Regions from separate parts of the Homo sapiens genome. Here region 1 is linked to region 2. The links come from fine-mapping of genetic effects on gene expression. A gene starts in region 2. The other region holds a variant in brackets. All regions are shown on one strand. Distances are from middle to middle.

Region 1 (5,384 bases), 140 kb after region 2:
TCTAAAGGCTGATAAAATATTTGATGGTACTAAGGAACTATTGTTAATTTCTAAAGGTATAATATTATATTATTAAACCATTAAAAAGAGTTCTCATCACAGGCCGGGTATGGTGGCTCACGGCCTCCAGCACTTTGGGAGGCCGAGGCGGGGGGGATCACGAGGTCAGGGATTTGGGACCAGCCTGGCCAACATGGTGAAACCCTGTCTCAACTAAAAATACAAAACATTAGCTGGCAGTGGTGGTGCGTGCCTGTAATCCCGGCTACTCGGGAGGCTGAGGTAGGAAAATCACTTGAACCCAGGAGGCGGAGGTTGCGGCGAGTGGAGATCATGCCATTGTACTCCAGTCTGGGCAACAGAGCAAGACTTCATCTCAAAAAAAAAAAAAAAAACAAAAGTCCTCATCTTTTGGATGTACACATGGAAATATTTACAGTTGAAATTATATGATATCTGAATAGGCTTCAAAATTATCCAGTGGGAAGGGATGATGGTTATGGATGAAACAAGATTGGCCATCTATTGGCCATTGTTGAAGCTGAATGATAGATACATGGGGATTTGTTACACTAATCTACTTTTGTGTGTTTTTGAAATTTTCTATAATAAAAAGTTTTTAAAATAGGCTTAGGTAAATCCCAGATTTGCCACTTGTAAATTTGTGATCGTGGACAAATTCATTAGCCTCCATAAGTCTCAGTTTTTGTGTGTGTGTGTGTGTGTGTGTGTGTTATTTCTGGTTAGGGCGTTGCCTATAAAATAGGTACAAGGTTATTTTCCCAGTTTACCACCTGGTCCGGGTTGTTGTGCCAAACTTAATAATATGTATGATGTTACTTTGTAAATTGCCACAAATATATCAACTGTTTTATTATTATGAAGTTCCTGAAAGGATCCAGGTTTTCTGCTTAGAAAATTTAGTAGCTTTTTCTGCTTCAACAAGCAGTATGGCTGTCTACATAGATTATATCAACTAAAAAGCTCTGGAATAAGAATATAATTATGTATCCAACAAGGGTTTTATCAATTAGTTTGTAGTAATAGAGTAATTATAAGACTTCATTTTAAAAAATTTGCAAATATAAATTTCTCATGGCCTAGTAAATTAAATGTCGTGTAGACAACTGTGCTATTAATGTTTTCCCTGTATAGTAAGAATTGTGAATTATTTCTGATTTCTTATTTTTCTTGATTGGAAGAAATTGCTTGAATTTAACACATCAATAAAGATTTTAAATTTATTCCTTCAAAATATAGAGAAACCCTGATTGTTAGAATTTTTTTCTTTTTTTTTTTTTTGTTGTTTTATTTTCTAATTCTGGCCTCATTTCTTCCTTCCTAACTCCCAGCATTTTATTGTGAAATATGTAGAGAGAAACGTGTAAAAGAAATATACAATTTAATGAATGATTATGAAGCAAATACCTATGTAACTACTGTACTGTGTTTTTTTTTTGTTTGTTTGTTTGTTTGTTTGTTTTGAGACGGAGTCTCGCCCTGTCACCCAGGCTGGAGTGCAGTGGCCCGATCTCAGCTCACTGCAAGCTCCGCCTCCCGGGTTCACGCCATTCTCCTGCCTCAGCCTCCCGAGTAGCTGGGACTGCAGGCGCCGGCCACCACGCCCGGCTAACTTTTTGTATTTTTAGTAGAGATGGGGTTTCACCGTATTAGCCAGGATGGTCTCCATCTCCTGACCTCGTGATCCTACCGCCTCCGCCTCCCAAAGTGCTGGGATTACAGGTGTGAGCCACCACCCCCGGCCTACTGTACTGTGTTTTAAGAAAAATCAGAATATCACCAGCACCTCAGAAAACCTCTGCATGCTTCTTCCCAGTCCAAATCTCTTTCATCCCCTGGGTAGCCACTATCCTGACTTTAGTAGTATTCACTTTCTTGCTTACCTTTATAGTTTTACCACTTGTGTATAGATTCCTAAACAGTGTGATTTTGTTTGTTTGTTTGTTTTGAGACAGGGTCTTCTTTGTCACCCAGGCTGGAATGCAGTGGCATGATCACAGCTCACTGCATCCTCAACCTACCAGGCTCAAGTGATCCTCCCACCTCCACCTCCCAAGTAGCTGGGACCACAGATGCATGCCATCATGCCTGGCTAATTTTTAATTTTTTTTAGAGACAGAGTCTTCCTATGTTGCCCAGGCTGATCTCGAATGCTTGGGCTCAAGCAGTCCTCCCACCTCTGTCTCCCAAAGTGCTAAGATTACAGGTGTGAGAGACCACACTGGGACTGATTTTTATATTTTAAGGATCCATTTATATTGTATCTGTAGTGAATTCATTTTTTTTGCTGTATAGTCTTCTGTTTTAAGAATTTATGGCTGGGCATGATGGTTCATGCCTGTAATGCCAGCACTTTGGGAGGCCAAGGTGGGCGGATCACTAGGTCAGGAGATCAAGACCATCCTGGCTAACACGGTGAAACCCCGTCTCTACTAAAAATACAAAAAGTTAGCTGGGCGTGGTGGCGGGT[G/A]CCTGTAGTCCCAGCTACTTGGGAGGCTGAGGCAGGAGAATGGCGTGAACCCGGGAGGCGGAGCTTGCAGAGAGCCGAGATCGCGCCATTGCACTCCAGCCTGGGCGACAGAGCGAGACTCTGTCTCAAGAAAAAAAAAAAAAGAATTTACTGTAATTTATTCTGTAGTTGATGGACATCTGGGTTGTTTCCACCTTTTTCTTTTTTTTTTTGTCGCCCAGGCTGAAGTGCAGTGGCGTGATCTTGGCTCAATGCAAGCTCCGCCTTCCGGGTTCACGCCATTCTCCTGCCTCAACCTCCCAAGTAGCAGGGACTACAGGCGCCTGCCACCACGCCCGGCTAATTTTTTGTATTTTTAGTAGAGACGGGGTTTCACAGTGTTAGCCAGGATGGTCTCGATCTCCTGACCTCGTGATCCGCCTGTCTCGGCCTCCCAAAGTACCGAGATTACAGGCGTGAGCCACCGCACCCGGCCCGTTTCCACCTTTTTCTATTACAAACAGTCTGAGTATGTCTTTTGGATGCACTTCTGTATGCATTTCTTTTATGTGTATACCTAGGATTGAATTAGTGACTTCATAATTGACAGGCAGTTTTCCAAGGTGGTTGTACCAGTTGACTCTCCAGCAGTATTCGAGAGATCTTGTTTTCCCACATCTTCAACCTGTACTTGGCATTGTCAGACTTTTAAATGCTTTATTTTAAAATATTATTAGTAAAACAACATAGATAAGTTTACTGTTGTCTATTACTTACATGTACTTGTAATGTTAAAGTCTAGGTTTTATGGCTGCGGGCGGTGGCTCACGCCTGTAATTCCAGCACTTTGGTAGGCCAAGGTGGGCGGATCACTTGAGGTCGGGAGTTCAAGACCAGCCTGACCAACATGGAGAAACCCTGTCTCTACTAAAAATACAAAAACATTAGCTGGGCATGGTGGTGCATACCTATAATCCCAGCTGCTTGGGAGGCTGAGACAGGAGAATCGCTTGAACCCGGGAGGCGGAGGTTGCTGTAAGCCAAAATCGTGCCGTTGCACTCCAGCCTGGGCAACAAGAGGGAAACTCCATCTCAAGAAAAAAAAAAAGTCTAGGTTTTACTTGGGGTGTGTGTGTGTGTGTGTGTGTGAATATTTCAGAGGTACAGAGACTCTTTCTGGTCATCGATATCTACTTGCTAAATTACGTCTTCCTACCTAACAACTGCTACGCTAGAGACCAGAAAAAAAAATAGTAAAGCTTTAAAAAAGGAGAGAGCATTTTTGTACCTTTTTCACTTGTGATATTAAACCTATGAGTGATAGCTCAATTTATCAATTGCTACATGCCAGGCGCTGTGCTAATGAACTCTTAAGACATGTAAACTCATTTAATCTTTACAACAGTTTTTTATTTCCCCATTTTTTAACAGATGAAGAAACTGAGGCATTAAATGGTTAAGTAACTTGCTGAAGATTGTAAGCTAGTAAATCATAGAGCCAGAGCTGAAGCTCAACAGTTGAGCTTCACTGGTTCCATCTGGGTTCTGAACACTTAATATCTAGACCTCCTACCCCGTTGGTGAGTTCTGGTTAGTGACATTAGTCCTCCAGAGCCACCATGTTTTGTCTCCGGGTGGCTGTATTTGAGCTTGACATGTTGTTTCTGGTGCTAACAGTTAGGAAAGCAGGGTTGCTTGAACTTCAAGACAGAGACTTACTTCCTTTCACTTGTTGTAGAAGTTGAAAGAAGCTGAAGCAGCATGAGAATCCTGGCTCTGGGGCTGGTACAGCTATTACAGGAAGGGACAGGACTTGGCCCTCTCTTCTCCTCTCTAGATTTTCCTGGGGGTACTCAGCCTTCATCTTCTGCCACTTAGGGTTTGAGTGGAAATGGCCGAGAATATGTGGTAGGAAGCAGTAAAGTGGACGTTTCAATTTCCTTAATTGTCCAAAAATGTGGAATATGTTATCCTTTAGAAACCATGTTGTAAATGGCAGCAACATTCCCAGGCCAGCTCAAAAAACCTATAATGTGGCCAAAATATATGCTTACAGCTGTATTGTTTCCTAGTTTTTTGTTTTCATTGCAATTGTGTAGCATTTTATTTGTCTTATGAGCTACTGGGCTAGCTGAGAACTTAGCCACATTGTTTATGTCGGAAAATGCATTCCAAACAGCTAAGACCACGTATTTATCTTAGTGTAGAGCTAACTATCCATAGCTTAGATCATTGACTACCTGAACACTCTGCTCCAAGTAAACTGAACAATACCATCACCAATTTTTTGACGGTAAAGAGAAAAACATCTCAGTAAGATAGAGAAACATTTTCTATGGATTTACTGTGACCGAGACCAAATTTTAATTAGCTAGGATATTTTTTAAATTGTAGCATTATATAAATGCATCTGTTTTTCATTTGTTACATATGGGTTTTTATTTACCCACCCTCCTAAAACATTGAAATATATTCATGTAGCTACCTGAACCACTTGTAGATCTTCAGACTTGTGCGGCAAAAGGAATGATAATTATAATCTGCTTCAGGCTACAGGCTAGAATAATTCAAAAGGAAATGTGCATTACTAATGCAGCAGAGCTCATAAATTCTCAATGTCAGTTTGCCATTTATGCAGTCAGTCTGGTTGGCCAGAGGCAAAAAGACTAGGGTTACATAATATTTATGAGGTCTGAAGTTAGCCATCACCAAAGCCAAATATTGCCAGTGTTTCAGATTACTCATTAAAGTCAGCATCATCTAGTCACGCCAATGGAGTTGGGAGCAGGGTGGATTTGGTAGTGATGAAACATTAGTTATAAGTATAAATTCTGTCCATTTTAGTCCACTACTACCTCCTTTACAGGATTTATAGCCTTCCTATTTTATATATTATCCCTGAGATGCCTACCTA
Region 2 (5,384 bases):
CACTACATCATGCAGCATTTCAACTCATTTCTTCCGCATCTACTTAGTCTAGAACATAAAATTAACTATATCACATGAACTCTTCACAAAACAATTGACTATAATCACATGGTATGGTGAATACCGATATATTTTTGGCTATTTTCAAGAATGCCTGCAAGGAATAAAGGTTTCAAGTCATAAATGGACCATTTCTGTTATTATAATTACTTCTGTTCTGGAAAAAAATACTTCCCTTATCAGATATTATGACCTTTAAGATTCCCATTTTCACAAATTATTTTTCATAAACTACACATATGTATGCTCAACTACGCAGCGTCTTACCCAACAATAGCTTAAGCAAACCACATATCTCAAATAAAAATGTCATCTATTCCAGGCTCATCAGCATATGTTAGAATCTGTTCCTAAAATAGACTCATAGACTTTTGGAATGGGAAGGAACCTTGGAGATCACCTCTCATTTCACAGAGGAAAATAATACACAGCAGGGACCTGCCCAAGGTCAAAGTGTCTTCATAAGAACCCAGGTCCAGAATAGAAAGTTCTCAAAAGATTTCAGAGAGAAATGCAATATTTGGTGAAACACCTTAGCTTGCCTCCCTTTACATCTACTTTTTTTTTTTTTTGAGACAGTGTCTCTCTGTCCCCAGGCTGGAGTGCAGTGGCACGATCTCGACTCACTGCAAGCTCCGCTTCCCGGGTTAACGCCATTCTCCTGCCTCAGCCTCCCGAGTAGCTGGGACTACAGGCGCCCACCACCACGCCCGGCTAATTTTTTGTATTTTTAGTAGAGACGGGGTTTCACCGTGTTAGCCAGGATGGTCTCGATCTCCTGACCTCATGGTCCACCCGCCTCGGCCTCCCAAAATACTGGAATTACAGGCGTGAGCCACCGCGCCCGGCCTACATCTACTTCTTAAGTACAATTTCCTGCATAGGAAACTTTTGAAATTTAAGAAAAGAAAGCAAAACAAAAAACTAAGCCAACCTTTTTTTTTTCTTTTTTCTTTTCTTTTTAAGTCTACAGCCAAGTCACTGATTCTAAAAGCTTAGAAGTTAAGGTAGACCATTGCAAGAATCTTAAGAGGTAACATTTTGGGGTAAAATCCCCAAGGCTTAAGGATACAATGTAAGTAAGACACACAAATTAAGAATAGCTATAATATTCTTATCTCTGTAACAAATTACATGGAGGATAGCTCATAAGTAGGAAAACTTTGTAAACATGCAACTTTCAAGGAAGAGAATTTTAGTCATCATACCTATTAACTATACAAGAATGCCAATACATTTTGAAATTTTATCTTGGTCTCTGTGCTTAAGCTGGAAATTTTTTTTCAAAATATATATCTTAAGTCATGTAAAAAAAAAAGCAGTAACTTGAGGAAAACCTTTTATCGACCCTTAATTAAAAGAAGGCCTTAAATCAAACCTTATTAAGAGAAGTATAAGCTATATTGTCCGGTCATGTTTGAAAGAATACATGAAAACTGAACATTCCTCAAAGTTAAGGCATGAATAGGACTAAGGACATGTACGTTTTTTGTTTTTGCAATGAAAGGCACACTATGCAAGCCAATTTACCTGTAGAAATATGTTTCTTAACTCATGAGGATCCCCTCGCTTAGTTGTCTGCACCTGTAAGCAAAAAAGAAAAAAAAGCCAGTTAATGCTTCACTAGAGACCACACAATCTCTTCAGATTAGAGGTCACATGGCTAACAATCAATGCTCCTATCTTTTATCATTTAGTTTAAAACAAACTAAAAGCCCTAATTGCTGATAAGAACTGTCAAACTGGATAACTGTGACTAGAGGGCAGAAAAACAGGTGCGAATAGCCTAAGATACAGCAAAGCTATCGGACAGTGCTTCCTCTGGACTGGAAAGGGAAGGCAATGAGGATCTTTTACTTTATTCCACATCTACTAGCAACACAGTAGTAACCACCCACCTTCAAATCAAGAAGCTAACAAGAGTAGATCAACAGGAAAGTTAAATCACCCAAATTAATCACTTGGCCTAGCAGCCTTTCTCCATAAAAAGCAAACCCAACATGTAATTATCTCCGCGTCCCTCTCCCCATCCAACCTAAAATATGAGAGCTGCCACAAATACAAATACTTTCCATACCCTGCAATCTGCAACGCAAAAGCCAACCACTGCCCTCGGCCTTATTGAGGCCCCAAATTACTCAATACTTACTCCCTCCCCCACCGCAATTCACTGATACCCTAGGTATCCCCAGCTTTACTTGCCACTTCCTCCCACACCCTTTCTGATGCCCTCCAACTCCGGACTCACAATCCCATGCACCTAGGACAGGACATTACTCTTCCTTCACTGACCCGTGTTACCGTACAAGCCCCTTCAACTCACAATCCCTCCTCCTTCCCCTCCCCCAGCCGGGCATCCCCTCCTCCGGTCCAAGCCCCGCACAGCTCTCCCCGCAGCAAGCCGGAGCCCCAGGACAAGCTATCTAAGACCTAGACAATGAATAAAATGGGAAGCAGTGGGGGGCTGCAGGCAGGGCGCTCGGAATGTCTCTTATGCAATAAAAGCAGCAGCAGAGAGTTGGAGTCACCTTGACCGCCATGCTGTGCTCGGAAGCCGGGGACGAGCGAGTGAGCGAGCAGGGCCGAGCTGTCAGGGCGCGCGCGCGCCGTCTTCCCGGCCGCGCCCGCCCTCCCTCTCGCCGGCGCCGCGCGCGTCCCTATGCAAATGAACTCGGGGCGCGCCGCGTGCGGAAAGGGGCCCGGCGTCCCGGCCAGAAAGGCAGCTGGTCCAGGGCCGGCCGGCCGGGCGGAGGAGGGGGACGCGCCTCCCACGGGGAAAACAAGCGCGACCCATGGGATCCCGACGCGCCGCGTGGTTGCCACAGCTAGGTCGCCGCCAGGAAAGCCCCAGGTTTCCTAAGGCCTCTTAGTGGGTGTGGCTTTGGGCACCGACCAGCCAAAGTCGTTTTCCCCGAGGCTTAAAGGAACATTTGGGGCCTATACTGAGCAAGGTTCCGACGGATCAAAGAGCACTTCCCATTAATAACAATGAATTAATGACAACTGATGGCAAATACCGACAAAACAAGATTGGGAACCACTCACTCTAGGGAAAACCTACGTAAACATAATTTGAGAAATATGCTCCTAAATTGGCATGGGACGAATACGCTGAATTTATTTTTGCTTTGCGTGCTATTACAACGGTTTATTAGTAGACTCGCTCCACTTTCCTAATCACCCAAATCCTGTGTGCAATGAGAAAAAAAACTCTATGTGTCTTTGACAGGGCTGGCAATGAATCGCTTGCCCATACATGAACAGAAAGTAATTCTCCATTCGATTTCTAGCCCTACCTAAGAAGTAGAAGAAGCAGTAACTCTATCTTGAACCAAAACAATGTTTCTAAACCCGTCTTGCCAATATCACTGTATTAGGCTACATATTGATTCAAACATGTATGGGCATCCATTATATGCCTGACATGGTCCTGCTTGTAAAAAACGCAAATAACCTATAGCCCCCACCCTCTAGGGGCTTACAGATGGTCAATGCTTCTCCACAACCCCAATCACATGTGTATTGTGTGTATGTGTGTCTGTGTGTGTGTGTGTTGAGACTGAGTCTCGCTCTGTCGCCCAGGCTGGAGTGCAGTGGCACCATCTTGACTCACTGCAACGTCCACCTCCCAGGTTCAAGAGATTCTCTTGCCTTGGCCTCCCGAGTAGCTGGGATTACAGGCACCCGCCGCAATGCCCAGTTAATTTTTTGTATTTTTAGTAGAGACAGGGTTTCACTATGTTGGCCAGGTTTGTCTCAAACTTCTGACCTCTGGTGATCCGCCCACCTCGGCTTCCCAAAGTGCTGGGATTACAGGCGTGAGCCACCGCGCCCGACCCTGTGTATGTTTTCATTTTTAATTTTTTGAGACGGAGTCTCGCTCTATCGCCCAGGCTGGAGTGCAGTGGCGCCATCTTGGCTCACTGCAACCTCTGCCTCCTGGGTTCAAGCAATTCTCCTGCCTCAGCCTCCCAAGTAGCTGGGATTACAGGTGCACGCCACCATGCCTGGCTAATTTTGTATTTTTAGTAGCTATGGGGTTTCGCCCAAGCCACTTATAATTAGACACTAGATAAATGACACACTTTAGGGCTTCTCTATACTGTACAACTATTCTCCCTATATGAACATTTGCTGTCATTGAAATAAATTCTCGTTTTGGTGGAAATGGAAGAGAGGGGTATCAAAAATCAGAAGAAATAGTTGTACTCCTGCAGTTATGTCTTTTCCTGAACTGTCTTCCTCACAGCCTGACTCTAAATCCTATAAATTATGCAGTGGAGATGATGGTGATCTTATTTTTGGACCACAGCCTTCTTTATTCCCTTGGTGAAGCAATAACAAACAGTTTTCTTTTCAGTGAATTTTGGAAGGAATTCATGGAATGAGCTGCTCTAGACATATATGGCTGTGAGTACTCTATCACTATACTAATTATGTATAACCTGGTATTTAGTAGGACACTATATAATCAGATGGAGGATTGAACTAGATGAGCTTTAATGCTTCTTCAAACACTCTAATTTCATGATTTAAAAGGAGCCAAATTTTAGTTAATAAACATTTATTGAGTGCCTTGCGTTTGTGTAAAACATGTGTTGCAGCCGGGTGCAGTGGCTCACACCTGTAATCCCAGCACTTTGGGAGGCCAAGGCGGGTGGATCACAAGGTCAGGAGTTCAAGACCAGCCTGTCCAATATGGTGAAACCCCCTCTCTACAAAAATACAAAAATTAGCTGGGTGTGGTGGCGTGCACCTGTAGTCCCAGCTACTCAGGAGGCTGAGACAGAAGAATCTCTTGAGGCCAGGCACGGTGGCTCACACGTGTAATCCTAGTGCTTTGGGAGGCCAAGGCGGGTGGATTGCCTGAGCTCAGGAGTTCAAGACCAGCCTGGGCAACACAGTGAACCCTGTCTCTACTAAAATACAAAAAAGTTAGCCAGGTGTGGTGGTGTGCACCTGTAGTCCCAGCCACTCGGGAGGCTGAGACAGGAGAATTGCTAGAACCCGGGAGGTGGAGGTTGAAGTGAGCTGAGATTGTGCCACTGCACTCCAGCCTGGGCAACAGAGCGAGACTCTGTCTCTGGGAAAAAAAAAAAAAAAAAAGCCCGGGCACAGTGGCTTATGCCTGTAATTCCAGCACTTTGGGAGGCAGAGGTGGGTGGATCACCTGAGGTCGGGAGTTCAAGACCAGCCTGACTAACAAGGAAGAGACTCCATCTCTACTAAAAAAAAAAAAAAAAAAAATTACAGGCTCATGCCTGTAATCCCAGCTACTCGGGAGGCTGAGGCAGGAGAATTGCTTGAACCTGGGAGGTGGTGGT

Alleles and levels. Alleles are on the strand shown, and positions count from the first base shown. SD is a standard deviation of normalised expression in the study named.
For the expression in amygdala of the gene that starts at base 2,630 in region 2, A is the low allele of the variant in region 1 and G is the other (small effect, 0.33 SD a copy in GTEx).

The links.
Region 1: its variant is fine-mapped to the expression of SLC25A12 in amygdala (GTEx, PIP 0.99).

The regions. Positions count from the first base shown.
Region 1 is chr2:172,033,699-172,039,082 of GRCh38, forward strand. All of the region lies in intron 1 of METAP1D (methionyl aminopeptidase type 1D, mitochondrial), which reads left to right. Among named protein-coding and RNA genes, the nearest start is that of METAP1D, 36 kb to the left of the region's middle. The variant G/A (reference allele first, on the strand shown) is at 2,492.
Region 2 is chr2:171,891,615-171,896,998 of GRCh38, forward strand. SLC25A12 (solute carrier family 25 member 12) reads right to left here and starts at 2,630. Exons shown (of 18, transcript NM_003705.5): 1 at 2,589-2,630; 2 at 1,591-1,644. The coding sequence starts at 2,600. RefSeq lists enhancers at 2,276-2,842, 2,843-3,409 and a silencer at 2,553-2,872.